Homo sapiens: one gene and its partners. Each later gene encodes a partner of the first gene's protein in a complex. Each region holds a gene or a part of one and is shown in the gene's direction. Other genes may lie near its edges. The genes, in order: TFDP1, MYBL2, E2F4 and E2F5.

What was found.
Region 2: TFDP1 (region 1) and MYBL2 share a complex: the UniProt entries of both Homo sapiens proteins name them as parts of the DREAM complex.
Region 3: TFDP1 (region 1) and E2F4 share a complex: the UniProt entries of both Homo sapiens proteins name them as parts of the DREAM complex.
Region 4: the proteins of TFDP1 (region 1) and E2F5 are in contact, whole or in part, in a crystal structure (PDB 5TUV), measured with the Homo sapiens proteins. Residues at the interface, in NP_009042.1 of Homo sapiens: Glu201, Cys202, Leu205, Glu208, Arg209, Arg212, Leu213, Arg215, Ile216, Lys219, Gln220, Leu223, Leu226, Ile227, Gln230, Phe233, Leu236, Val237, Arg239, Asn240, Arg241, Arg249, Pro253, Ser255, Val256, Ile257, His258, Leu259, Pro260, Phe261; in NP_001942.2 of Homo sapiens: Val126, Arg129, Leu130, Lys134, Glu136, Ile137, Leu140, Glu141, Glu144, Leu147, Asp148, Gln150, Lys151, Leu154, Gln155, Ser157, Ile158, Val161, Met162, Ile166, Asn167, Asn168, Arg169, Phe170, Ser171, Tyr172, Val173, Thr174, His175, Asp177.

What each region holds. Positions count from the first base shown.
Region 1 is NC_000013.11:113,587,740-113,594,769, forward strand, and holds part of TFDP1 (transcription factor Dp-1), read left to right. Parts: intron 1-7,030. UniProt on the Homo sapiens protein: Can stimulate E2F-dependent transcription.
Region 2 is NC_000020.11:43,670,114-43,677,143, forward strand, and holds part of MYBL2 (myb-related protein B), read left to right. Parts: intron 1-3,692; coding exon 3,693-3,786; intron 3,787-7,030. UniProt on the Homo sapiens protein: Transcription factor involved in the regulation of cell survival, proliferation, and differentiation. Transactivates the expression of the CLU gene.
Region 3 is NC_000016.10:67,195,125-67,199,418, forward strand, and holds the end of E2F4 (transcription factor E2F4), read left to right. Parts: intron 1-657; coding exon 658-882; intron 883-2,474; coding exon 2,475-2,522; intron 2,523-2,742; coding exon 2,743-2,787; intron 2,788-2,883; coding exon 2,884-2,999; 3' UTR 3,000-3,794; downstream 3,795-4,294. Other genes in the region: ELMO3 (engulfment and cell motility protein 3), read left to right, coding at 4,203-4,280. UniProt on the Homo sapiens protein: Transcription activator that binds DNA cooperatively with DP proteins through the E2 recognition site, 5'-TTTC[CG]CGC-3' found in the promoter region of a number of genes whose products are involved in cell cycle regulation or in DNA replication.
Region 4 is NC_000008.11:85,172,695-85,180,165, forward strand, and holds the start of E2F5 (transcription factor E2F5), read left to right. Parts: upstream 1-4,459; 5' UTR 4,460-4,726; coding exon 4,727-4,960; intron 4,961-7,471.

The sequences.
Region 1 (7,030 bases):
AGGCGTGAGCCACCGCGCCCGGCCTAGCTAACTCTTTTAAGTAGAGGTGTGACATTTGAGTTTTGAAAAGATGATGTTGGCAGCTTTTGCAGAAGGGAACATCGATAACCAGTTAGGTGTTTTGTTTTTGTTTTTTGAGACGGAGTTTTGCTTGTTGCCCAGGCTAGAGTGCAATGGCGCGACCTCAGCTCACTGTGACCTTGGCCTCCTGGGTTCAAGCAGTTCTTCTCCTCAGCCTCCCAAATAGCTGGGATTACAGGCGCGCCACCACACCCAGCTAATTTTTTGTTAGTAGACACGGGGTTTCACCATGTTGGCCAGGCTTGTCTTGAACTCCTGACCTCAGGGGATCCACCCACCTCGGCCTCCCAAAGTGCTGGGATTACAGGCGTGAGCCGCTGTGCCCAGCCCACCAGTTAGGTTTTTAAAAGCACTGGTACTGCAGTAAAACCACAGGTGTATGTCAAAAGCCTTTATGCTGGGGGAAAGCTGTGCCACTTGGGTTGAAGGAGGCAGGCCTCCAGCTTCTAAGTGCCCTGGGGCCTCTGTAGAGGGCCATGAGGGGCCACAGGATGCAGGGAGCTGGAGCTAGGCCCTGGTAGTCACCATGGAGGAGGAGAAACAAGGACATCCAAGACCTGAGGCTGGAAGGTTCTGGAGAGAACACAAGAGAAAAACAACTCCGGAGCTTCCAACCTCAAGTAGGGCACAGGGAGACAAGCGGGTGGGAAAAGGCCACAAATGGCTCCATGTGAGTGAGGGGCAGAAAGAAGAGGATGAGGTCAGTCCTCTGGGGGTGTCATCTTTGAACAGCAGTTGACAGGCAGTGGGTGTGAAGGTCTATATGGCAAGGAGCTACACACGAGGGAGGAGAGAGGTACTCTGAAAAGTTTGCAGAGTGGGTAGGAAATGACTGTGGAGCAGTGAGGAGAGTGATCAGTGATGGTGTAGTAGTTAGAGAGTGAGTGGTGGTGGACTTGATGGAGAGTGAGTGGTGGTGCTGGAGTGGTGGAGAGTGAGTGGTGATGGTAGATTGGACGGAGAGTGAGTGTGGTAGACTCGGGGACAGTGAGTGGTGATGGTAGATTGGATGGAGAGTGAGTGGTGGTAGGACTGGGGGAGAGAGAGTGGTGATGGTGGTGTAGGTGGAGAGTGAGTGGTGATGGTGGAGTTGGTAGAGTGAGTGTGGTGATGGTGTTGTGGGTGGAGAGTGAGTGATGGTAGTGTTGTGGGTGGACAGTGAGTGGTGATGGTGGTAGACTGGAGGAGAGTGAGTGTGGTGATGGTGTTGTGGGTGGAGAGTGAGTGGCGGTGCTGGAGTGGGTGATGTAGGGTCACAGAAGGAGGAAACAGCCTAGAAGGTGGCTGCCTTTGATGGTCCTTGAGTGGGCCCAGCTGGAGAAATGGTGAGAAGGATTAGGTTTCTGTTGTCTTGCTCAGGGACTTTTTATTTTATTGCACTTATTTGAATTAAAATGGTAAATTCAAATGGAATATTTGTGTTTATACTCTGTTAAGTGGGAGAATGTGGAGAACAGGAGTCAGCTGCCATACGGCCACCTGGCTGGCTCCGGGAACCTGAGGCCTGGTCTTGCCCAGCAGGAGCGCTGGCATAGCATGGATCACTTACAGAAATTTATGATCAAGATTATGGGCTGCTCCTGGCAATATGGGGAGGATTTCCTTGCTGTGGGGACTGTCTGTTTCCATGCCTGGCCCACCCGGTCTGTGATAGCCTCAGGTGCAGTCCTGTCTTAAGTTTGGAGACACCCTGGGAGGTCCGTACAGACTCTTTGAGTTTCTGAACTGTCCTCGAAACATCTCAGGCCCTCCGCCTCAGGGCCTAGGGAGGCTGTCCTCTGGTTCCTGAACAGGGTGGCTCTGACCCGCAGATCTGTGGGCTCCCGTTGCAGGTACCGGTGGTGCTCGGAACCGTCCTCAGATTCAGTCTTGGAAGGTGCTTTGGCACCTCCTTAGAGTCGGACAGACCCTTGTCACGAGTCAGTCCAGCTGCAGGGGCTCAAGTTGTTCTAGAGCTGGGCTGGCAGGGCCCTTGGGTGAGGGAGTGTGGCTTGGCACTGGCATCTCAGCCTGCGGCCAAGTTTCCTGCCTGCCCAGGCAGCATGACCCTTGGTGGGATCAGGCAGAGCTCTGCCTCTCCCCTCCCTACCTCGGAACATCCTGTCGTCACACACGATTGTCCAGTGTCATGAAAGTTTGTAAGTGGGAAGGCAGGCAGATGATGAATTCATCAAACATTACAGGGATGCTTTTGCTGTAAGACTTCGGGATGTAGCCCGTGTGGGGCTGTTTCTGGGGTCCCGTTCGCCTCTCCAAGCTCCTCCTGCCATTGGTAAAGATGCAGGGCATCTGAACTCGCTCTTGGGCTGTGCGGGCACTTGGACCTGGTCAGCTCCCTGTGCAGAGAACGTGGCTGTGGACGTCACTGCCCGGTATTCACGTGCCTTGGTTGTGAAAGCCGTTCTGTGGTGCCTGTTTGTGTCCTGTGAGTTTATGGGGAAATCCTGAAATTGAGAGCTGGGGACCAAGAGAACTGTGTGCGTCCCACCATGGAGGCGTTTGAGTGATGCTGTCACGAGGCTCTGCTAATGCCAAGAGGGGACCAATGAGCTCCTCTAAGGGTCTACCACCAGGTGTCCTTTTACAGACCTGGATGGTGAAGTTCAGGCCTGAAGAGGTGAACCTGATGCAGCAACAAACTGCTGTTTCCTTCAGTGCTTGAAGGAGTGAGTTCTGGGAACAGGATTCAGCGACTCAGGCCTTCTTTTGTCCTCATAAAGAAACAACTTTACATTTGAGGTTAAGAAGGTTGTCAGTTTAGCCCCCTCAGGTTTAAGTGTTGAAGAAATCTATGATGACGTGCTTGTTTTTACAAGAGTCTTTTCATATTTCAGGATTTTTTTTTTCTACATAGGATGAGGTTAGAGAAACTCTGAAGGGATATTAAAAATTAGAAAATTATAGGTTGGGCCGGGCGCAGTGGCTCACGCCTGTAATCCCAGCACTTTGGGAGGCCGAGGCAGGTGGATCACAAGGTCAGGAGATTGAGACCATCCTGGCTAAGAGGGTGAAACCCCTTCTCCACTAAAAATACAAAAAATTAGCCAGGCATGGTGGTGGGCGCCTGTAGTCCCAGCTACTGGGGAGGCTGAGTTAGGAGAATGGCGTGAACTCGGGAGGCGGAGCTTGCAGTGAGCAGAGATCACGCCACTGCACTCCAGCCTGGGCGACAGAGCGAGACTCTGTCTCAAAAAAAAAAAAAAAAAAAAAGAAAAAGAAAATTATAGGTTAATTAAAAGTTTTGCCCCTGCTGGGCACGGTGGCTCATGCCTGTAATCCCGGAGGCCAAGGCGGGTGGATCACCTGAGGTCAGGAGTTCGAGACCAGTCTGGCCAACATGGCAAAACCCTGTCTCTACTAAACATACAGAAATTAGCTGGGCGTGGTGGCGGGCGCCTGTAATCCCAGCTACTCTCGAGGCTGAGAAGGAGAATCGCTTGAACCCGGGAGGCGGAGGTTGCAGTGAGCCGAGATCACGCCATTGCACTCCAGCCTGGGTGACAAGAGCAAGACTTCATCTCAAAAAAAAAAAAAAAGAAAAAAGTTTTGCCCCTAAAACATGCTTTAAAAGAGGTATTATAGGAACATCTGGTATAAAATTCAAAGAATAAAAAAGGACATCTTTTTTCTTACATAATCAGCTCTTTGTTAGCTCTTTACTTTTGGTATTTGGAAGAAATCTCTGGAGTTCGTTGTGTAAGAATTGGAAACCTCACCTTTGGTGCACAGCTCGATTTGCAGTAGAAGTATCAGGTGCTCTTTAGGGGATGTTAAAAACTTTTCACTCTTGGTATTTACATTAAAAAATACTTTGTTGTAGAACAATTAGAAAATCCAGATTTGCAGTTGATATTTAGCTTGACTTACAGTGTGGCTTTCTGCTGTTTGTCATAAGAGACTAGATTTGTCAAGTTTTGCTTAGAGAGGAGGACTGGTAGCAGCAGGTGGCTTAGACTACGTGTGGGGATGGATCTGCGAGGGGAAGGGCAGATGTCAGCGTTGGCTGAATTAGAGGCTGAATTAGGTGACCCCTCATCCCCCAGGTGTCTTACTCAGATGATTCTGGTTGTTCGGGTACTGGCCATGCACTGCTCTCTGTATCTTTGTGTGTAGCCCAAGCCTGGAAAAGCATCCGCCCTTTGTACCTTTTTCCCGACTGGCTGAGATTCCCGCAGCATCCCGACTCCGCTTCAGGGCTCCTGTGAGGACAGGGACTATGGCTTTTAAGTTGTCGCACAGGTCATGGGCACTATTCACATGTGCTGCAGGTAATTTTGAGACTCAAGGATGAAGAGTTATATCTGCCTCTTCCCGTTAGTCTTTTATGTGAATCCTGTTTGTTTGTTTGTTTCGAGACGGAGTTTCGTTCTTGTTGCCCAGGCTGGAGTGCAATGGCACGATCTTGGCTCACCACAACCTCTGTCTCCCGGGTTCAAGCGATTCTCTGACCTCAGCCTCCCAAGTAGCTGGGATTACAGGCATGCGCCACCATACCCTGCTAATTTTTTGTATTTTTAGTAGAGACGGGGTTTCTTCATGTTGCTCAGGCTGGTCTTGAACTCCCGACCTCAGGTGATCCGCCCGCCTTGGCCTCCCAGAGTGCTGGGATTCCAGGCGTGAGCCACCGCGCCTGGCCATGAATCCTGTTTTTCTATGGTCCAGTTTCTAAGGGATTCTGGTCTGATGAATGAAAACCTTGTGTGTCCCCTGTGGCTTTGGGATACAGTATCTTTTAACACAGGTGCTTGCCCTGTGCACCCTGGTCTTCTGTTCATTAACATCGCGTCACTGGGGTCTGAGGAAAAGAGACAGTGTGATCCGCTCCAGTGAATGGGGAAGCAGGAGAGGGTCAGAAACCTGAATGGGTCAGCCCAGAATCCAGCATTGCCAACACATCCCTGGCCCTCCCCTCCTGCCCAGGTGACAGGTGTGGCATATGCTGGTCCTCAGCCCTGCCCAGGAGACAGTTGTGGTGTCTGTGGGTCTTCAGCCCTGCCCAGGTGACAGGTGTGGTGTGTGCTGGTCTTCAGCTGTGCCCAAGAGACAGTTGTGGTGTGCACGGGTCCTCAGCCCTGCCCAGGTGACAGGTGTGCTGTGTGCTGGTCCTCAGCCCTGCCCAGGTGACAGGCGTGCTGTGTGCTGGTTCTCAGCCCTGCCCAGGTGACAGGTGTGCTGTGCACGCGTCCTCAGCTATACACAGGTGTCAGGCGTGATGCGTGTGGGTCCTCAGCCCTGCCCAGGTGACAGGTGTGGTGTGCGCGGGTCCTCAGCCCTGCCCAGGTGACAGGTGTGCTGTGTGTGGGTCCTCAGCCCTGCCCAGGTGACAGGTGTGCTGTGTGTGGGTCCTCACCCTGCCCAGGTGACAGGTGTGCTGTGTGCTGATCCTCAGCCCTGTCCAGGTGACAGGTGTGCTGTGCACGCGTCCTCAGCTATACACAGGTGTCAGGCGTGATGCGTGTGGGTCCTCAGCCCTGTCCAGGTGACAGGTGTGGTGTGCGCAGGTCCTCAGCCCTGCCCAGGTGACAGGTGTGCTGTGTGTGGGTCCTCACCCTGCCCAGGTGACAGGTGTGTGTGCGGGTCCTCAGCCCTGCCCAGGTGACAGGTGTGCTGTGTGCTGATCCTCAGCCCTGTCCAGGTGACAGGTGTGGTGTGCGCGGGTCCTCAGCCGTGCCCAGGTGACAGGTGTGCTGTGTGTGGGTCCTCACCCTGCCCAGGTGACAGGTGTGGTGTGTGCGGGTCCTCAGCCGTGCCCAGGTGACAGGTGTGCTGTGTGTGGGTCCTCACCCTGCCCAGGTGACAGTTGTGCTGTGTGCAGGTCCTCACCCACCCAGGTGACAGGTGTGGTGTACACGGGTCCTCAGCTGTGCCCAGGTGACAGGTGTGGTGTACGTGGGTCCTCAGCCCTGCCCAGGTGATAGGTGTGGTGTGCGCGGGTCCTCAGCCGTGCCCAGGTGACAGGTGTGCTGTGCACGCGTCCTCAGCTATACACAGGTGTCAGGCGTGATGCGTGTGGGTCCTCAGCCCTGCCCAGGTGACAGGTGTGCTGTGTGCTGATCCTCAGCCCTGTCCAGGTGACAGGTGTGGTGTGTGCGGGTCCTCAGCCGTGCCCAGGTGACAGGTGTGCTGTGTGTGGGTCCTCACCCTGCCCAGGTGACAGTTGTGCTGTGTGTGGGTCCTCACCCTGCCCAGGTGACAGTTGTGCTGTGTGCAGGTCCTCACCCACCCAGGTGACAGGTGTGGTGTACACGGGTCCTCAGCCGTGCCCAGGTGACAGGTGTGGTGTACGTGGGTCCTCAGCCCTGCCCAGGTGATAGGTGTGGTGTGCGCGGGTCCTCAGCCGTGCCCAGGTGACAGGTGTGCTGTGTGCAGGTCCTCACCCAGCCAGGTGACAGGTGTGGTGTACACGGGTCCTCAGCCGTGCCCAGGTGACAGGTGTGGTGTACGTGGGTCCTCAGCCCTGTCCAGGTGGCAGGTGTCCTGTGTGTGGGTCCTCACCCTGCCCAGGTGACAGGTGTGCTGTGCACGCGTCCTCAGCTATACACAGGTGTCAGGCGTGATGCGTGTGGGTCCTCAGCCCTGCCCAGGTGACAGGTGTGCTGTGTGCTGATCCTCAGCCCTGCCCAGGTGACAGGTGTGCTGTGTGCTGATCCTCAGCCCTGTCCAGGTGACAGGTATGGTGTGCGCGGGTCCTCAGCCCTGCCCAGGTGACAGGTGTGCTGTGTGTGGGTCCTCTGCCCTGCCCAGGTGATAGGTGTGGTGTGCATGAGTCCTCAGCCCTGCCCAGGTGACAGGTGTCCCGTGTGCTGGTCCTCAGCTGTGCCCAGGCTTGGGCTGTGGGTGCCGCCCGTTCCCAGTGGACATGGAATCCTTGTGTTACTGAGTGACCTGCGTGTGCTGGTTGCTGCACCAGCGGGCTTTTCTGTCGCAGTTGCTTTTTAATTGTATCCAT
Region 2 (7,030 bases), on another chromosome or scaffold:
AAACAAACAAACAAACAGCATTGGAGCACCAGGGAGTGTCCATGCAGACATCATTTCATCCTTGAAAGAATATTTGCTGACCTTCTGTTAGAAGCCAGGCCTTTGTGCTGGATGCTGGAGAAGCAAAGATGGTTTCTGTCACGAGCTGTCTGGGGGCAGTTGATTTTAAAGCCAACTTCATTCTGTTATTAGTATCTTCTGGATTTTTGCCTTCTATATTGAAGTGGTGGAGGACCCATGAACTGGGTCAGGAATGAATTCCAGATCCTTCTGTATTGCTGACTGTAGACACCGTCCCTCCTTTCCTATTTCTGAAAATTTTTTTCTTTTGAAATTGGGTCTTGCCTGGCCTAAAAAATTTAATTAGTATTTCTTATTGACTAATAGGCAGCAGCTTTGCACATTTTTTCATTTATTTGTATATTCAGTCAGTCCCTGGGCAAACATTTCTTAAGCCCTTTTGGTGATAAACCCTGGGATGCCAAGGTGGAGCTGACCTTTGTAGATGATGTGGAGGAGACAGGCAGTTGCAGTGTAAGGGCCCGAGACAGGAGGGTTTCCCATGTGCTATGGAAGTATAGGAGTGACTCTAGGAAGCAACGGTGAGCTTTGGAGAACAAGGAGAAGGTAATGTGGATAGCACAGTAAGCCTTCTTTCATTTGTTTCATTTCCAAACAAGACTTGCCTTGTTTGGAAACCTGTAAGCTTTTTCCAGTTTACAAATGTCTGACCTAGCAACTTACCTGACCAACGTGACCTGATGCAGGTCCTGTCGGGTGGAGTTGGGGAAAGATTACTAACTTTCCTCAAGCACCTGACATCTCTGGAGGTGGATCCTATGATTTCTTTTTTTTCTTTTTTTTTTTTTTTTTGAGACGGAGTCTCCCTCTGTTGCCCAGGCTGCAGTGCAGTGGCACGATCTTGACTCACTGCAACCTCTGCCTCCTGGGTTCAAGCAATTCTCCTGCCTCAGTTTCCCGAGTAGCTAGGACTACAGGTACATGCCACCATGCCCAGCTAATTTTTGTGGGTTTTTATTTATTTATTTTTTTTGAGATGGAGTCTCGTCTGTCGCCCAGGCTGGAGTGCAGTGGCACAATCTCTGATCTCTGCTCACTGCAACCTCCGCCTCCTGGGTTCAAGCAGTTTTTCTGCCTCATCCTCTCGAGTAGCTGGGATTACAGGCGCATGCCACCACACCCAGCTAATTTTTTTGTATTTTTAGTAGAGACATCATTTCACCATGTTGACCAGGCTGGTCTCGAACTCCTGACCTTGTGATCCACCCACCTCGGCCTCCCAAAGTGCTGGGATTACAGGTATGAGTCACCGCGCCCGGCTGATTTCCATTTTTTTTTTTTTTTTTTTTTTTTGTGAGATGGAGTTTCGCTCTTGTTGCCCAGGCTAGAGTGCAATGGCTTGATCTTGGCTCACCGCAACCTCCGCCTCCCAGGTTCAAGCGATTCTCCTGCCTCAGCCTCCTGAGTAGCTGGGATTACAGGCATGCACCATCACACCCGGCTAATTTTGTATTTTTAGTAGAGACGGGGTTTCTCCATGTTGGTCAGGCTAGTCTCGAACTCCCGACCTCAGGTGATCTGCCTGCCTTGGCCCCAAAGTGCTGGGATTACAGGTGTGAGCCACCACACCTGGCCCGATTTCCATTTTTGTAACTATTAAACTGGATAAATACGAGGATTTTTTGGAGCAACTTGGAAGATTGCCTTGTAGAGTAAAAACACCCAGAATTCAAAGCAGCTCGTACTGTTTTTTTTTTTTCCCCTACAGCGGCGTTAGAAGATATTGTACACTGGGCCGGGCGCGGTGGCTCACGCCTGTAATCCCAGCCCGTTGGGAGGCCAAGGCGGGTGGATCACGAGGTCAGGAGTTCAAGACCAGCCTGGCCAAGATGGTGAAACCCTGTATCTGCTAAAAATACAAAAAAAATTAGCCGGGCGCGGTGGCAGGCGTCTGTAATCTCAGCTACTCAGGAGGCTGAGGCAGGAGAATCGCCTGAACCTGGGGGGCAGAGGTTACAGTGAGCTGAGATGTCGCCACTTCACTCTAGCCTGGGTGACAGAGTGAAACTCCGTCTCAAAAAAAAAAAATAGATACTGTACACTGATTTTTCTCTCCATTAATTATGCCTGTGTGTAGGCAAGGATTGAAAAGGGATTTGCAAAAATGGACATAAGCCAGACACGGTGGTGCACACCTGTAATCCAAGTTACTTTGGAAGGCTGAGGCAGGAGGATCCCTTGAGCCCAGGAGTTCAAGACCAGTCTGGGTAGCATACTGAGACCCTGTCATTACAAAAAAAAAAAAAATCAACACACGAAAAAACAACTTGGCCAGTCACAGTGGCTCAGGCCCGTAATACCAGCACTTTGGGAGGCCAAGGTGGGAGGATTGTTTAAGGCCAGGAGTTCCAGATGAGCCTAGGCAAAATAGTGAGATGTTTCTACAAAAAAATACAAAATAGCCAGGCATAGTGTCATATGCAAGTTGTTCCAGGTACTTGGGAGGCTGAGGTGGGAGAATTGGATTGCTTGAGCCTAGGAGTTGGAGGCTGCAGTGAGCTGTGATTATGCCACTACATTCCAGTCTGGGTAACAGAGCCAGACTCTGTCCCTAAAAGAAGAAAAACAACAAATGGACATAGAGAATATATTCAGAATTTTTTTTCCAAATAACTAATATCTCTTAAAATCTTGATGCCTGTTAACTTCATCAACTTTATTCCTTAAAATATCCATGCAGGTTTGTTACTGAAAGGAAAAAGCGATAGTCTGATTTTGAACATAATATTCTTGGTGAAATCTTAACTTTCTTTTTCCTTTTCTTTTTTTGAGACAGTCTTGCTTTGTCACCCAGGCTGGAGTGCAGTGACATGATCTCGGCTCATTGCAACCTTCACCTCCCGGGTTCAAGCAATTCTTCTGCCTCAGCCTCCTGAGTAGCTGAGATTACAGGCATGCGCCACCGCACCCAGCTAATATTTGTATTTTTAGTAGAGATGGGGTTTCACTGTGTTTGATCAGGCTGGTCTTGAACTCCTGACCTCAAGCAATCCACCCACCTCGGCCTCCCAAAGTGCTGGGATTACAGGTTTGAGCCACTGTGCCTGGCCTCTTTTTTTTTTTTTTTTACAGCTTTTGAAATCACTAGGGCATTCCTGAAAATAAAAAAGAAGAAAGTAGCTCTTAACCCTATTTCATTAAAAAATTTAAAAAGAGGTGAGGTCGGGTGTGGTGGCTCATGCCTATAGTCCCAACACTTTGGGAGGCCGTGGTGGGAGGATTGCTTGAGCCCAGGAGTTCAAAACCACCCTGGGCAATATGGTGAGACCCCGTCTCTACAAAAAATACAAAAGTTAGCCGGGCGTGGTGGCATACCCCTGTAGTCACAGCTACTTAGGAGGCTGGGGCGGGACGATCATTTGAGTCCAGGAGTTCAAGGCTGCAGTGAGCTACGATCATGCCACACTGAATTCCAGCCCAGTGACAGAGTGAGACCCTGTCTCAATAAAAATAAGTGAAGCAGAAGTGCCTATGTCTTAAAAAGAAGAAAAAGTAAGAGCCTCTCTCCCCCAGACCTTTCCCTAGGGTGGGCTGGCCGCTGCCTACACGTTCTCCATTATGTAAAACATATGGACACACCATCCTTGACCCTTGGCCTGCTTTCCCCATAGCGAGGATCTGGATGAGCTGCACTACCAGGACACAGATTCAGATGTGCCGGAGCAGAGGGATAGCAAGTGCAAGGTCAAATGGACCCATGAGGAGGTGAGTGCCATGGGGAAGAGAGGGTTGATGGCAGCTGGGGGCTGTCCAGAGGAACTGAGCCTGGAGTGTATTTGATGTCTCATCAGATGGGATGAAGAGGAGGAGCCGGTGAAGGAAGGGATGGGTCCTCTGATTGTCCTCATGCCTCTTCTCAGAGCATTCTGGGGGATTCTCAATTTTGAGGACTCAGTGGGTGGGAAGGGGATGTGTGTCCTAGACCTCAGGGCCCATTGTGTCTCCTGAGCAGCTGCCATGTTCTATGTCATGGACATTGATTGTGCTTTTTGCCTTTTGACTGCTAGGAGGTTTGGCCAAATCTGTAACTCCCCCCACCCTTTTTTTTTTTTTTTTTTTGAGACAGAGTTTCGCTCTTGTCACCCAGGCTAGAGGGCAATGGCATAATCTCAGCTCACTGCAACCTCTGCCTCCTGGGTTCAAGCGATTCTCCTGCCTCAGGTGCGATTACAGGCGTGAGCCACCACATCCAGCTAATTTTTTTTTTTTTTTGAGACAGTCTCGCTTTGTCACCCAGGCTGGAGTATAGTGGCATGATCTTGGCTCACTGCAACCTCTGCCTCCCAGGTTCCAAGCAATTCTCCTGCCTCAGCCTCCCGAGTAGCTGGGATTGCAGGCATGCGCCACCATGCCCAGCTAATTTTTTTTTTTTGTATTTTTAGTAGATACGGGGGCTTCACCATGCTGGCCAGGCTGGTCTCGAACTCCTGACCTCATGATCTGCCCGCCTCGGCCTCCCATAGTGCTGGGATTACAGGCGTGAGCCACTGCACCCGGCCTTAATTTTTGTATTTTTTAGTAGAGACGGAGTTTCACCATGTTGGCCAGGCTAATCTCGAACTCCTGACCCCAGGTGATCCACCTGCCTCGGCCTCCCAAAGTGCTGGGATTACAGGCATGAGTAACCGCACCCTGCCAACTCCCACTTTCTTTTTCTAAAATAATTAACTGTATTGAACCTTCTGACATCAAGCCCTGAATTGGTTTCCTTCTAGCTCCATCTTTTTATTTTATAATAAATGTGATTGAAATATAATTTATATGTAATCATATGCAATCAAATGCCCTTTTTTTAATTCCTTTTTGAGACAGGGTTTTTGCTCTGTCACCCAGGCTGGAGTGCCGTGCTAGCATGGCTCACTGTAGCCTCAACTTTCTGGGCTCAAGCAATCCTCCCCCGTCAGCCTCCTGAGTAGCTGGAACCACAGGCATGCGCCACCACGCCTGGCTAATTTTTGTATTTTTTGTAGAGACAGGGTCTCGCCATGTTGCCCAGGCTGGTCTCAAACTTCTAGGCTCAAGCATTTCTCCCACCTCAGCCTTCCAAAGTGCTAGGATTATAGGTATGAGCCACTGTCCCTGGCCAAATGCCCCTTTTTATGGTGAACAGTTTGATCAGTTTTTTTTCTTTTTTTTTTTTTGAGATGGAGTCTCTGTCTCCCAGGCTGAAGTGCAATGGCGTGATCTCCACTCACTGCAACTTCCGCCTCCTGGGTTCAAGCGATTCTCCTGCCTGAGCCTCCTGAGTAGCTAGGATTACAGGCACCCGCCATCATGCCCAGCTAATTCTTGTATTTTTGTAGAGATGGGGTTTCACCATGTTGGCCAGGCTAGTCTTGAACTCCTGACCTCAAGCAATCCACCCACCTTGGCCTCCCAAAGTGCTGGGATTACAGGCATGAGCCACTACGGTGAGCCGGTTTGATCACTTTTGACAAATGCATATACCAATGTAAGCACCACCCTGATTATCCCAAGAAGTTTTCTGTGGTCCTTTGTGGTCAGGCTTCCCCAGCTCCAGGAAATTGCTGATTTGATTTGTTTTGCCTTTTTCTTTTTGGGGGCTTTGTGTGTGTGTGTGTGTGTGTGTGTTGTTTTTAACTTTAGGTTCAGGGGTATATGTGCAGGTTTATTATATAGGTAAATTGCATGTCGTGGGAGTTTGATGTACAGGTTATTTTGTTACCTAGGTAATAAGCGTGGTACCCAATAGGTAGTTTTTTTTTTTTTAAGGCAGTCTCTCTCTGTTGCCCAGGCTGTAGTGCAGTGGTGTGATCTCAGCTCACTGCAACCTCTGCCTCCTGGGTTCAAGCGATTCTCCTACCTCAGCCTCTCAAGTAGCTGGGATTACAGGCACGTGCCACCACGCCTGGTAAATTTTTGTATTTTTAGTAGAGACAAGGTTTCTACTTGTCTCTACTAAAATGTTCACCAGGCTGATCTTGAACTCCTGACCTCAGGTGATCTTCCCACTTCAGCCTCCTGAAGTGCTGGGATTACAGGCGTGAGCCACTGCACCCAGCCCCAATAGGTAGTTTTTTGATCCTCATCCTCCTCCCACCCTCCACCCTCCTCCCACCCTCCACCCTCAAGTAGGCCCTGGTCTCCTTGTTCCCTTCTTCGTGTCCATGTGTATTCAGTGTTTGGCTCTTACTTATAGATGAGAATATGCGGTATTTGGTTTTCTGTTCCTGTGTTTGCTTAGGATAATATGTTTTGCCTGTTCTTGAATCTTCTATAAATGAAATCATACGGTTACATTCTTTGCGTCTGGCTTTTGCTCAGCATTGTGTTGGGTGATTCAGTAACTTGTCCTTTTCTATCACTGGATAGTAGTCCATTGTATGGGTATACCACACAGCGTTTCACCTGTTGATGGATGTTTGGACTGTTTGCAGTTTTTGGCTATCGTGTATAGCGCTACCTTGAAGATTCTTGCATAAGTCTTTTTGCAAATACATGTTTCCCTTTCTTTTGGGAAGATAGGTATGGTCATGGGGTAGGTGTATGTTTAGTTTTACAGAAACTGCCTTTTTCTTAATGGATTGTACCATTTTAGACTTCTACTGGCCTTTTTATTTTACCTCAGTTTTTCTTAGTGTCTTCAGTTCTTCAGTGTTTTTTGTTTTGTTTTGTTTTCAACCCATAGTTAACATCATAGATGTCTTTAATTTTAGGATTGGGTTTTTTTTTTTGTATTGTATTATTTGTATTGCTTTTGTTTTTTGTTTTTAAATAGAGAAGAGGGTCTTGCTATGTTGCCCAGGCTGGTCTCCTGGGCTCAAGCAATCTTCCTGCCTTGGCCTCCCAAAGTGTTGGGATTACAGGCAGAAGCCACCATGACTAGCTTGTTTTGTTTTTTCTAAAACTTGCTGTGTGAGTGGTAAACTCCTTTTAAATCATGAAAGATGTTTTTCCAGATGCGTGCTAAGCAAACCTTTTCTGCTCA
Region 3 (4,294 bases), on another chromosome or scaffold:
AATGAGCCTTTTTTGTTTTTGTTTTTGAGACGGAGTCTCACTGTGTCCCCCAGGCTGGAGTGTGCAATGGCGCGATCTTGGCTCACTGCAACCTCTGCCTCCCAAGCTCAAGAAATTTTCCTGCCTTAGCCTCCTGAGTAGCTGGGATTACAGGCGCCCACCATGCGCAGCTAATTCTCGTACTTCTAATAGAGATGGGGTTTCACCATGTTGGCCAGGCTGGTTTCGAACTCCTGACCTCAAATGATCTGCCTGCCTCGGCCTCCTGTAGTGCTGGGATTACAGGCTTGAACCACCATGCCTGCCTGAATGGGCCCTTTTTAACAGGGAACCTCTGACTGTGGGAAGAGCCATTGCTGGTGGCAGTTTTCTCCCCCAGATCCACATCCACTGGTGTCTCAATTGCCCTGGTAGCCCGTCTTGAAGTATGGCCACAGCAGACATGTTGACCACGAGTCTTCTTCTGTAGGTCTTGTGTCCCTGTCTCCTGTGGTGACTAATTTCAGGTTACTTCCTCTGGGGGTGACTGGCAATGCCTAATTCTCCTTGGGTCTGGGAACCAGGCTTGTGGTCCTCCTGTGTCTGGGTTCCAGCACAGCCAGTTTCAACGACCTCTTCCTGACCTTGTATGACTGGGTTTGGGGGCTATCATTGTAGTGAGTGGCGGCCCTGGGACTGATAGCAAGGACAGTGGTGAGCTCAGTTCACTCCCACTGGGCCCAACAACACTGGACACCCGGCCACTGCAGTCTTCTGCCCTGCTGGACAGCAGCAGCAGCAGCAGCAGCAGCAGCAGCAGCAGCAGCAACAGTAACAGCAGCAGTTCGTCCGGACCCAACCCTTCTACCTCCTTTGAGCCCATCAAGGCAGACCCCACAGGTGGTGAGTACCTGCCCCCTGGGGGCAGAGAGAGAGAGTCTAGCCTCAGTCCAGTCCTAGGTCAGAAAACAGAATTGGGGATGGAACCCAGATCTCCTGTCAACCCTGCTGGACACGAGAGCTCTCTGCCAGCACCTCTGGGTCAGTGCTGGTGCCCCCTCTAGCACCCCATCCTAGGCTAACACAGAACTCCCTGCCGTCTCTCAAGCCCTTTCCTGCCACCCCTTGGAGCACCGCCTCACTAATTGACACTTCTCTGTATCACTCTCTCTCATCTTCTCTGTCTCCTTTCTGTCTGGACTCCTTGAAAAAGTAATCTCCATTCATTAGTCTCCTAGTCACCTTTCAGGTTGCAGCAGTCACCCCCCCAGCCCCAGTGTTACAGCGGTGTTACTCTTGAGAAGCTGCCGAAGGCCTGCCGAGCCCAGCAGCCTCCAGCGTGTTTTGCTGGTGCTCTCTTGGTCTGTGTCAATATTCTTTCCTCCTTTGGCATCATGATGCCAGCTTTTGGCTCTCCTATCTCACTGGCTTCTTGAACTCTTCCCTGGCGTGTCCTTAAACATTGCTGTTTTTGAGGGCTCTGTCCCATTCCACTCCTGGAGAGGGCTGCAGCTCTGGGTGAACGAATCCCCAGCCTCCGCCTGGCCTAGATCTTTTCCCAATCTGCACACTTCGGTGTCCACCTGCCGTCCTGTGTACATCCAATGGACACTTTATTCCTGCATGTCCTCAACTGAACTTAGTTTCCTCCCGAAGCTTGCTTTCCACCTCTGCGCACCCAGCCGTCAGCCCTAGTTATCCAGGCCTGACCCTTGGCTCTCACTCTAGTTCTAGTTCCTTATCCCTCCTCCTTCTGCTGCCCACCCCATGCCAGCTAACTGAGGTCTGTCCCAGATGTCCCCTCCTATCCTCTGGTATCCTCAGCACTCAGGATGACCCCTGGCCACCTCTGTCCTGGATTCTTCAGCATCTTTCTCTTTACCCTGACTGACAGACTAATCTTTCTGAAATGCAGGCCTGACAGAAAAATGTGGCATTTCTCTGTTTGCAAAAGTACCTTTAATGGCTCCTTGAGGGCCACCAGATAAGATCTGAACTCCTGAGCCTGGCATGTGAAATCCCTCATAGTCCTCTCTGGTTGCATTTTCTTCTGCTTCCCCTGTGTCCTCCTGGCCAGAGGTTTGTAGTGGAGTCATCACCCTGTAGCGCCACCACCTCTGCCTGGTGACCTGACCCAGGGTCTGGTCTCAGTCTTGCACAGAGCAGGTGCTCAGCAAGGGTGGGACAGATGGGGTACCTTCTGTCAGACAGGGGGTGCATGCTGAGCCCAGAAAGAGGCTTCTGTGGCCTTTCCGAGTTAGAAAAGCTGTACCAATCGCTTGCAGGGGGCCTTTGGTACCCTGGGCTCAGCACTGAGGAATTCAGGTTTAGCAAGTGAGGCCAACAGACAGTGCCAGCTTGGCCTAGGCAGGACCTACATCTCCTTAGCTGTGTGGAGCCTCAGGGTGGGTGGTATAGGATCCGAGGAAGCCAGGGGGCTGTAGTGGGGCCAGGCTGGACCTCTGTGCCCTGAGCATGGCTTTCTTGTTTTTCAGTTTTGGAACTCCCCAAAGAGCTGTCAGAAATCTTTGATCCCACACGAGGTAGGCTGCTGCATTCCTCCCTGAGGCTAGGGGTAAGGGACACAGCTCATTGGGTCCTATGGCTGTTTTCTTGCCCTTTTGAGGACCTTGTTGTGGCGCTTATGGTAACTGGGGCAAAGGGTGAAGTTCCTGATGGGCAGGTGGGGTTCCCTTTCCTGGGCTTTGGTGGGTGGAGAGGTGGGAGCTGGAATGTTAGTAACTGAGCTCCCTCCATTCCCAGAGTGCATGAGCTCGGAGCTGCTGGAGGAGTTGATGTCCTCAGAAGGTGGGTGGCCCTGGAAGGTGGGAGTGGGTGTGGGCAGGGGTTGGGCTGCTGCTAGGGGAGCCCTGGCCCAGGGCCTGAGACTAGTGCTCTCTGCAGTGTTTGCCCCTCTGCTTCGTCTTTCTCCACCCCCGGGAGACCACGATTATATCTACAACCTGGACGAGAGTGAAGGTGTCTGTGACCTCTTTGATGTGCCTGTTCTCAACCTCTGACTGACAGGGACATGCCCTGTGTGGCTGGGACCCAGACTGTCTGACCTGGGGGTTGCCTGGGGACCTCTCCCACCCGACCCCTACAGAGCTTGAGAGCCACAGACGCCTGGCTTCTCCGGCCTCCCCTCACCGCACAGTTCTGGCCACAGCTCCCGCTCCTGTGCTGGCACTTCTGTGCTCGCAGAGCAGGGGAACAGGACTCAGCCCCCATCACCGTGGAGCCAAAGTGTTTGCTTCTCCCTTTCTGCGGCCTTCGCCAGCCCAGGCTCGGCTGCCACCCAGTGGCACAGAACCGAGGAGCTGCCATTACCCCCCATAGGGGGCAGTGTCTTGTTCCTGCCAGCCTCAGTGTCTTGCTTCTGCCAGCTCCTTCCCCTAGGAGGGAAGGGTGGGGTGGAACTGGGCACATGCCAGCACCACTTCTAGCTTCCTTCGCTATCCCCCACCCCCTGACCCTCCAGCTCCTCCTGGCCCTCTCACGTGCCCACTTCTGCTGGGCCTTTAGCCCTAGAACCTGCAGGTGGTGGGGGCGGCTACCAAGAAGGAACAGAGGTCTCTGGGGAGGAGTCTGGGTGGTCCAGCCCTGATGATTGGCCCCACCTCCTGCTGCCCCATAACCCTCTCTTCATTTCGGCTTTTTCATTTACCCTCATTTAGAGCCATTTGCAGAGATTTAGAAAGATTTACAGTAACGAATGGATTCCTATATAAAGATTATTTTTATACTTTTTGCAGCAAAAGGAAATTGTAATATTTGTACAGTGTTCAAGTGAATAAAAACCATGCCTAAGGCTAGCTCTGATGTGGTTCTTTGGGGACCCTCCTTGGGACTGTGCTGGACTGGCAGTGTGATTGGGTGGGTCACCTTGCTGGAACTAGGGGTGGGGCGGCCTCCGGCAGCCTGCCCTCCCCGCCCCCACCTGCCGCACCTTGGTGTGGGGCGGGGCCGCCTCGGCGGGGCGGGGCAGGCGGAGCCGTCCTACCTTCCTACCCCCAGACTCCAACCCGGAACTAACCTCGGCTCCCTTGGGAAGGCCGCGTTGCATGGCCAGGAGCAGCAGTCTGGGCCGCGAGTGCGGGACACCGAGGTCAGGTCTCGGAAAGGGAGGACCTCCTCGTCCCCAGGGGCCCCAGGCCAGGTGCACCCTTGGCCGCAGGTGCACGGTCTCCGGAAAGTGCAGGCGCCCACGTCCCAGCTGGACCATGGCGCCTCCGCGGAACGTGGTGAAGATTGCCATCAAGATGCGTGACGCCATCCCGCAGCTCATCCAGCTGGACCAGGTCACCCGGCTGGT
Region 4 (7,471 bases), on another chromosome or scaffold:
AAAAAGATTCATAATCTTTGAAACATATCTTTTTTTTTAACATAGAAAGTGCAGAAGATAGATGTTTGTATGTTGCAAGGTTTTTTGTTTGTTTGTTTGTTTTTTTGACGGAGTTTCACTCTTGTTGTCCAGGCTGGAGTGCAATGGTGCGATCTCGGCTCACTGCAACCTCTGCCTCCCAGGTTCAAGTGATTCTCCTGCCTCAGTCTCCTGAGTAGCTAGGATTACAAGCGCATGGCAATATGCTCGCTAATTTTTCGTATGTTTAGTAGAGACAGGGTTTCACCATGTTGGCCAGGCTGGTCTCGAACTCCTGACCTCAGGTGATCCACCCACCTTGACCTCTCAAAGTGCTGGGGTTACAGGTGTGAGCCACCGTGCCTGGCCTGTATGTTGCAAGGTTTTGAAAGGAAAAATGGAAAACTGTATTTTATTTTCATTAACTTAGATTACAAGAAGAAGGTATTAGGGTTGATGTAGCAGTCTTTTGATGGAGATTTGTTAGCTCAAAGGGCATCTGAGAGTCTAAAGTTCCAACCATTCATGATCACCGAATGGGCTAATGCACTTAAAAAATCAGTCTGCATGGCCAGGTATGGTGGCTCATGCCTGTAATCCCAACACTTTGGCAGACCAGGGTGGGTGGATCACCTGAGGTCAGGAGTTCAAAACCAGCCTGACCAAAATGGCGAAACCCTGCCTCTACTAAAAAAACAAAATTAGCTGGGCATGGTGGTGCATGCCTGTAATCCCAGCTACTAGGGAGGCTAAGGCAGGAGAATCTCTTGAACCTGGGAAGCAGAGGTTGCAGTGAGCTGAGATCATGCCATTGCACTCCAGCCTGGGCAACAAGAGCAAAACTCCATCTCAAAAAAAAAAAAAAAAGTCAGTCTGTCATCATCAATAAACAAGTAAAATTTTGTTGGATTTTCTTAAATATTTAACTACCAGATTATGACAAAACTGTGCATATTTTAAATTGATCCTGAATCTCTATAAAAATGGCATTTGTGAAATTCCACAAATGTTAGATACTATAAGTTTAATGAGCTGTGGACTAAGAAATCATTCTGTTTTGAAATATTTAAGCCTTCCTTCTTAGTCCTGAACTAGCTAAGGAGCTGCACTTCCAAAATGCATTTAAAAAAAGAAAATTTAACCAGGGGCATATAAACAATATTATAATTGAAAATAGTATCTACCCAACTAATCAGCGTAAATTGAATTTAATGAAGGATTACTGTTATGCATTTATTACCCTTATAGGTCAATGAAATATAGTTTAGTTCAATTGGATTTTTTTTTTTTTTTTTTTTTTTAGGATAGATTCTCACTCTGTCACTCAGGCTGGATTGCAGTGGCAGGATGACAGGTCACTACATCCTTGACCTCTTGGGCTCAAGTGATCCTCTCACCTCAGCCTCTCTAGTGGCTGGGACTACAAGTGTGCACTACCACGCCCAGCTAATTTTTGTAGTTTTTGTAGAAATGGGGTTTTGCCATGTTGTCCAGGCTGGTCCTGAGTTCCTGGGTTCAGGCAATCCTCTTCTCTCAGCCCTCCAAAGTGCTAGGATTACAGACAGGCGTGAGTGCCCAGCCAGGCGTGAGCACTCAGCCAGCTTTGACTTTTGTTGGAAATAATTTTTAAGCCTTTGTCAGAAATGGCACAAAGAACTGATGTAGGAATTTACAGCCTTTTGAGAGTTATCTCCTTTATAGTCAAAAGGATACAGAAATAAAAGTTAAATTACAAAACTGATCAATATCATGTTCTTAAACATTATTTGTATCATAACTTTTAAAAAATCATGTTTCTTAGTTTTTTTAAAAAATAGAATTTTTAAAAACATTTAGCAATATTTAAAAAACTTTTGCATTATCAATCTCTGTTTTTTGTCGATTTTTAGGAAAAATATATATTGCATTATTTTTCATTGTGCTATTTGGCGTTTCTCAAAGAATGACTATGTTGTGCATGAGAATTATCTGAACTGTGAAAAATGTGGACTCACAGGTCATATTCTCATATCAAATGCTAATTTGATCCCTGGGGTTTGGATCCAAGCATCTAGATTTTTAACAAACATTGTAGATGATTTTTTCCCCTAAGGTCTGGGAACCACTGGTATAAGCGATTTTTAGCTCTTCAGACAGACATAAGATTTTGAATGCTAATTAAAATGGCTGCTAATTTGTGAATAATTTCTAATTGAACCCCAGGCAATCTAAAGAGATAAAAAATTCATTGTGAAAAACACAAATAACAGTGCAAAATAAATTGTTAATTGACCTTTTAGAATCACTAATAATATAATTGCTTTGTAGAAAACCTTTTAAAGCTGAAATTTAAAAAATATTGTTTTTAAAAATTACCAAGATAGCTACTATAAAATATGATTACATGCCATGGGATGAACTATATCTCCCCAACATTTGTATGTTGAAACCCTAACCCTCGGGCCTTTGGGAGGTGATTAGGTTTAGATGAAATCGTGAAGATTGAGCCCTCAGATGGAATTAGTGCCCTTATAAGAAATCTGAGAGCTTATGCTGTCTCTGTTCTGTCTGTCTTTCTCTCTCTCTCTGCCATTTGACACAATGAGAAAGCCACAATCTGACAGCCAAGAAGGGGGCCCTCACCACAACCTGGCCATGGCAGCCTCCTGATCGTCGACTTGCAGCCTCCAGAACTGTGAGAAAATTAATTTCCGTTAAGTCACCCAGTTTATGGTACTTTCTCAAACTAAGACACCATAGAAGTGTAAGTTTTAAAAATATTAATACATTTAGTGTTATTAATTCCTGTCCCTGCACATATAACACAATGTTCTGTTATAAAGTTAAAAACAAATTAGAATCTTCCTAATTCAGTATGTTCTAAGAAATACTACTTGACAATAATCAATAAAATAAATTTGCAAAACTTGTCAATGATGTGTCCCATGTCAAATCAAATAAAGATAGCCTTTCTTGGATAGGTTGTTGGAAAATGGTTGTATCAACTGAATTTTTCATGTTTTACTTCAGATTTTCAATTTTAAGTTTTGTTTATAGATTTGATTAAAATAAAGGTTATTATGAATAGGTTATTAATAAAGGTTATAAAGTTCTGTGCCTATGATGTGTTATAAATGGTGTGTTCAGCTTTACTAGTTAATGCTGTTGTATTTGATGTCGCTTCAGTGACCTTTTTTGTTAGTTTATTGTTACTTAAAATTAAGCAAAATCTTTCTTGCATGAAATCTTCTTGATTAATTATTGCCATATAGAATTTTCATTCACCTAATCTTTTTTTTTTTTATTTGAGACAGAGTCTTGCTTTGTTGCCCAGGCTGAAGTGCAGTGGTGGCATCTCGGCTCACTGCAACACTGCAACGTCTGCCTCCTGGGTTTAAGAGATTCTCCTGCCTCAGGCTCTGGAGTAGCTGGGACTATAGGCGGGCACCACCACCCCCCGCTAATTTTTGTATTTTTAGTAGAGACGGGGTTTTACCATGTTGGCCAGGTTGGTCTCGAACTCCTGATCTCAAATGATCTGCCTGCCTCGGCCTCCCAAAGTGCTGGGATTACAGGCGTAAGCCACCGCGCCTGGTCTCATTCGCCTAATCTTTATTGTCTACTATATTCAAAGTGTTGAGTGTGACAACAAGTCATTTAAAATTTAGTCTGGATTCTCAAGAGTTTGTAATATAATGAGGAAAAAATCCCAACGACTTTCTTTTACTCAGATCTCCATAATGTCATTTGCCATCAATAGTTTGGAATATCACTGAAGTCCAAGGGCCTGTGGCTACCCAATATTCCAAATACAATATAATTTGGTTCAAATAAGATATTAAGAACTTTGGTCAAGAACTTTGGTCAAACACAGGAGATCTGGAATCTAACGGCATGTCTTTGGCAATTCACAACCTCTCCCTCTACACGTTTCTCCATGTAGAAAGTAAAGGCCTTGGAAAGGATTGATGAAAACCAACCCTAAAACTCCACGATGCCTTTTTCTGTACTCCGAATCTAAAAGGGTGAGCTATGAAGTAAAACTCTGCACTTGGTCCAAGTCATTGAAATATTTGCAAACGATGCTAGAGCTCGAAAAGAGCAAAGATAGCAGAAACCGTCCAGAGAAAGTAACCTACTGCTGAAGCTCTGCAAACTTGAGCAGTCAACCAACTTCACCGCTCACAAACGTTTGGCCGCTAGGCATTGTGACTTTCTGCCCAGATAAAAGTCTTTTTTTCTTTTGTCTCCTTTTTTTCTTCCTCCCTGCTTTGCCGCGTGAGATTACCACTCCTCGGGTCAGCTCGCGAACGCCAGGGAGGCGAGTGTGAAACACACGCGCCAACACCCCTCCTCCTCCTCGTGCGCTCCTCCTTCCTACAGAAAAATGTGTTTCTAGGCAACGGCGGGCGGCGGCGTCACTTCCTGCCATTTAAACTCAGGTCCCCACCCCTCGCAGCCCCTTCTCCTCGTTTCCACCCCTCCCCCCTCGGTCGTGGGCCTCATTCACGCTTCCCCGGGCTTGGGGAGGGGGCGGAGGCCCGGCGTGACAAGCGGCCCAGACTCCCGTGGGCGCCGCACACCTGTTGTTTGCAGCAGCCAGCGACCCGCACTACCGCTCTCGGCGGGCGGGGAAGCGGCCGCAGCGGAGCCGACCCGGCAGGTGGCCGCGGGCGGGGCCGGCGAGCGAAAGTGCGCGGGGGCCCGACCACCGCGGGGCCGGGACGCGATGGCGGCGGCAGAGCCCGCGAGCTCGGGCCAGCAGGCGCCGGCAGGGCAGGGGCAGGGCCAGCGGCCGCCGCCGCAGCCTCCGCAGGCGCAAGCCCCGCAGCCGCCCCCGCCGCCGCAGCTCGGGGGCGCCGGGGGCGGCAGCAGCAGGCACGAGAAGAGCCTGGGGCTGCTCACTACCAAGTTCGTGTCGCTGCTGCAGGAGGCCAAGGACGGCGTTCTGGATCTCAAAGCGGTGAGCTCCGGAGGCGGGGACGGGGGCGGACTTCGGAACCCGTGGCCCCCGGGGAAGCCCAGCCCCTCGCCGCGTGGGTCTAGCGGCGTGGTGTAGACGCGCCTTGCGGGGACCCGGGACCGGGCAATCCGAGGACCATGTGGCCTGCGCCCGGGTCGTGGACGCCGGGATGGGGGAGGGACGAGGGACCAGGATGGCACCGAGCGGACGCGTAACCAATGGGGCCCGGCGCCACGCTGGGCTCTCGACAAAGAGCCCAGGACCTCGAGCGCGCCCGCGTGGCTTCTGTCTCCGGGCGCAGGGACCTGAGGGTAACCGAGTGTCTGTTGCTCTGCGTCCACCTGTGGCAGAGGCTCACGGGGTAACGGGCGCTTTGCCCGGAGACACCGTGGATATCGATTTTGCTGTTAAGAATGGATGGTTTTAATAGGCGATTCCAGTTGGAACCATGTTCCTGTAGTTTAAATAAAAAGGAGGAAAAACAAAACCCAGTCTGCCATCTCTACCAGATGAAAGAAAAAAAAAAAAGAGTACTTCTTTCCACGCCCCTCCCCGATAAAATAGTATTAAATCTTCCTTGTGCACTTCTTTCATCACCCTGATAGTTAGGAGGGGTATTTGATTTGTGACTTCATTTGGCATGTGTCATGGGTTTCCAAAAGTGAGATCTGCTGTCACACGAAAAGGGGATATTTTACAACTTTCACCCAAAGAGGTGGAAGTGCTCAGTAAACTCTCTCCCTGCGTCGTCCTTTACAGCGTTCAGATTTTTCAAACAGGAGCAGGCATCAAAAGCTGTTCTGTCATACAGAATGACTTAACCGATCTAGGAAGGATTTGGAAGAATTCAACAGCGCTCAGGATAATGAGAATGTGGTCACTCCGCGCGAAGTTTAAGAACTAAAGTTTTAGAAACAAACAAACAAAAAACACTAACTGCCCAATAATCACTGCAAATCCCCTTTGACTCCCTAAATGTGGCCTTACTTGGAGGATTGGCCCCAGCTCCCAGGGGAGTGCCTGGACCACCTTACCTGGCTTGAGAGTGTCACTGCATCCTCAAGGCTCTGCATAAAGCAGTGGCAGCTCCCTGAATGTAAGGACCAAGACTTGCAGGGGCCAACTCTTCTGCTAGAGGCCCTCCTCCAGTGTAGCCCAAGGGGAAGTAGATCTTTTCAGTGCCCTCTCCTTTCCCTGGATGTAGTTGGTGTTCAATCAGTGATTGTTGAACTGAATTACCTAAATTGTTCAACTTCATACAACTGAGGCATGCTGCACATATTTTGCATTTTGGTAAGTAATTTCTACTATTTTCTTTTTGATATGTTATTCCTGGAATTTTTTTCCCACCTCTGGAAATTCCTTGTTCTCTTTTTTCCACCACAGCCCCTTCTTCCTTTCTCTCCCTGAAAGTGATTTATGGCATGTGTAGTATTTAAATTGTAGTGAATTAAAATGGATTCTGTTTAAAGAATTTCACAGGAAGTCATGAAGTTATCAGAGAAAGCCAGGAATGTTACAAAGCACAGGTGGCAAACTGCTGTTCAAAATCTAGAAATTCAGCTGTAGCCTGTGACTTTGGTGTAAGAAAATCAGGGAAGTTTGGGGTTTTCCAGGTAAAACTGAACTCTGACGGCTGGACTTTGAGGGCTTCTCCCTCAGCTTGCCTCAGGATATGGTGGAACTTTGCCCTTTCTTGACTTGAAATTCTTTAGCTTCCTCCTGTTTCATCTGTGGCTATATAATTGCCCTACAGAAGTCACAGAGGCAGTGAGTAGGATGTAAAGTTTGGTATTTCATGACAATAATTGCTTTATTCATTCTGGAACTCTCCTAAAAATTCAAAGGTTTCTACAATAACACTGTCTCATTATATTAATGACTTCATACTCCTAGAAAAGAGTTTGAATGTCTTTAGTTTTCATATATATGTATGAAAAACATATGTTTTATGTATTTTACGTATATTTTTCATTTATTTATATATACTTATATATGTAAAAATCTTTTTTTTTTCTTTTTTGAGACGGAGTCTTGCTCTGTCGCCCAGGCTGGAGTGCAGTGGCGCGATCTGGGCTCACTGCAAGCTCCGCCTCCCGGGTTCACGCCATTCTCCTGTGTCAGCCTCCCGAGTAGCTCGGACTACAGGCGCCCGCCAGCGCACCCAGCTAATTTTTTTGTAATTTTAGTAGAGACAGGGTTTCACTGTGTTAGCTAGGATGGTCTCGATCTCCTGACCTTGTGATCCACGCGCCTCGGCCTCCCAAAGTGCTGGGATTACAGGCGTGAGCCACCGCGCCCGGCCAAAAATCTTACATTGAAATCTTTCCAATGATATTTCTTATTATACACCATAGTAAAAGATCGTTAAAGCCTTTTTTTTTTGAGACTGAGTCTTGCTCTGTCACCCAGGCTGGAGTGCAGTGGCAGATCTCTGCTCACTGCAACCTCCACCTCCCGGGTTCAAGCGATTCTCCTGCCTCAGCCTCCCAAGTAGCTGGGATTACAGGT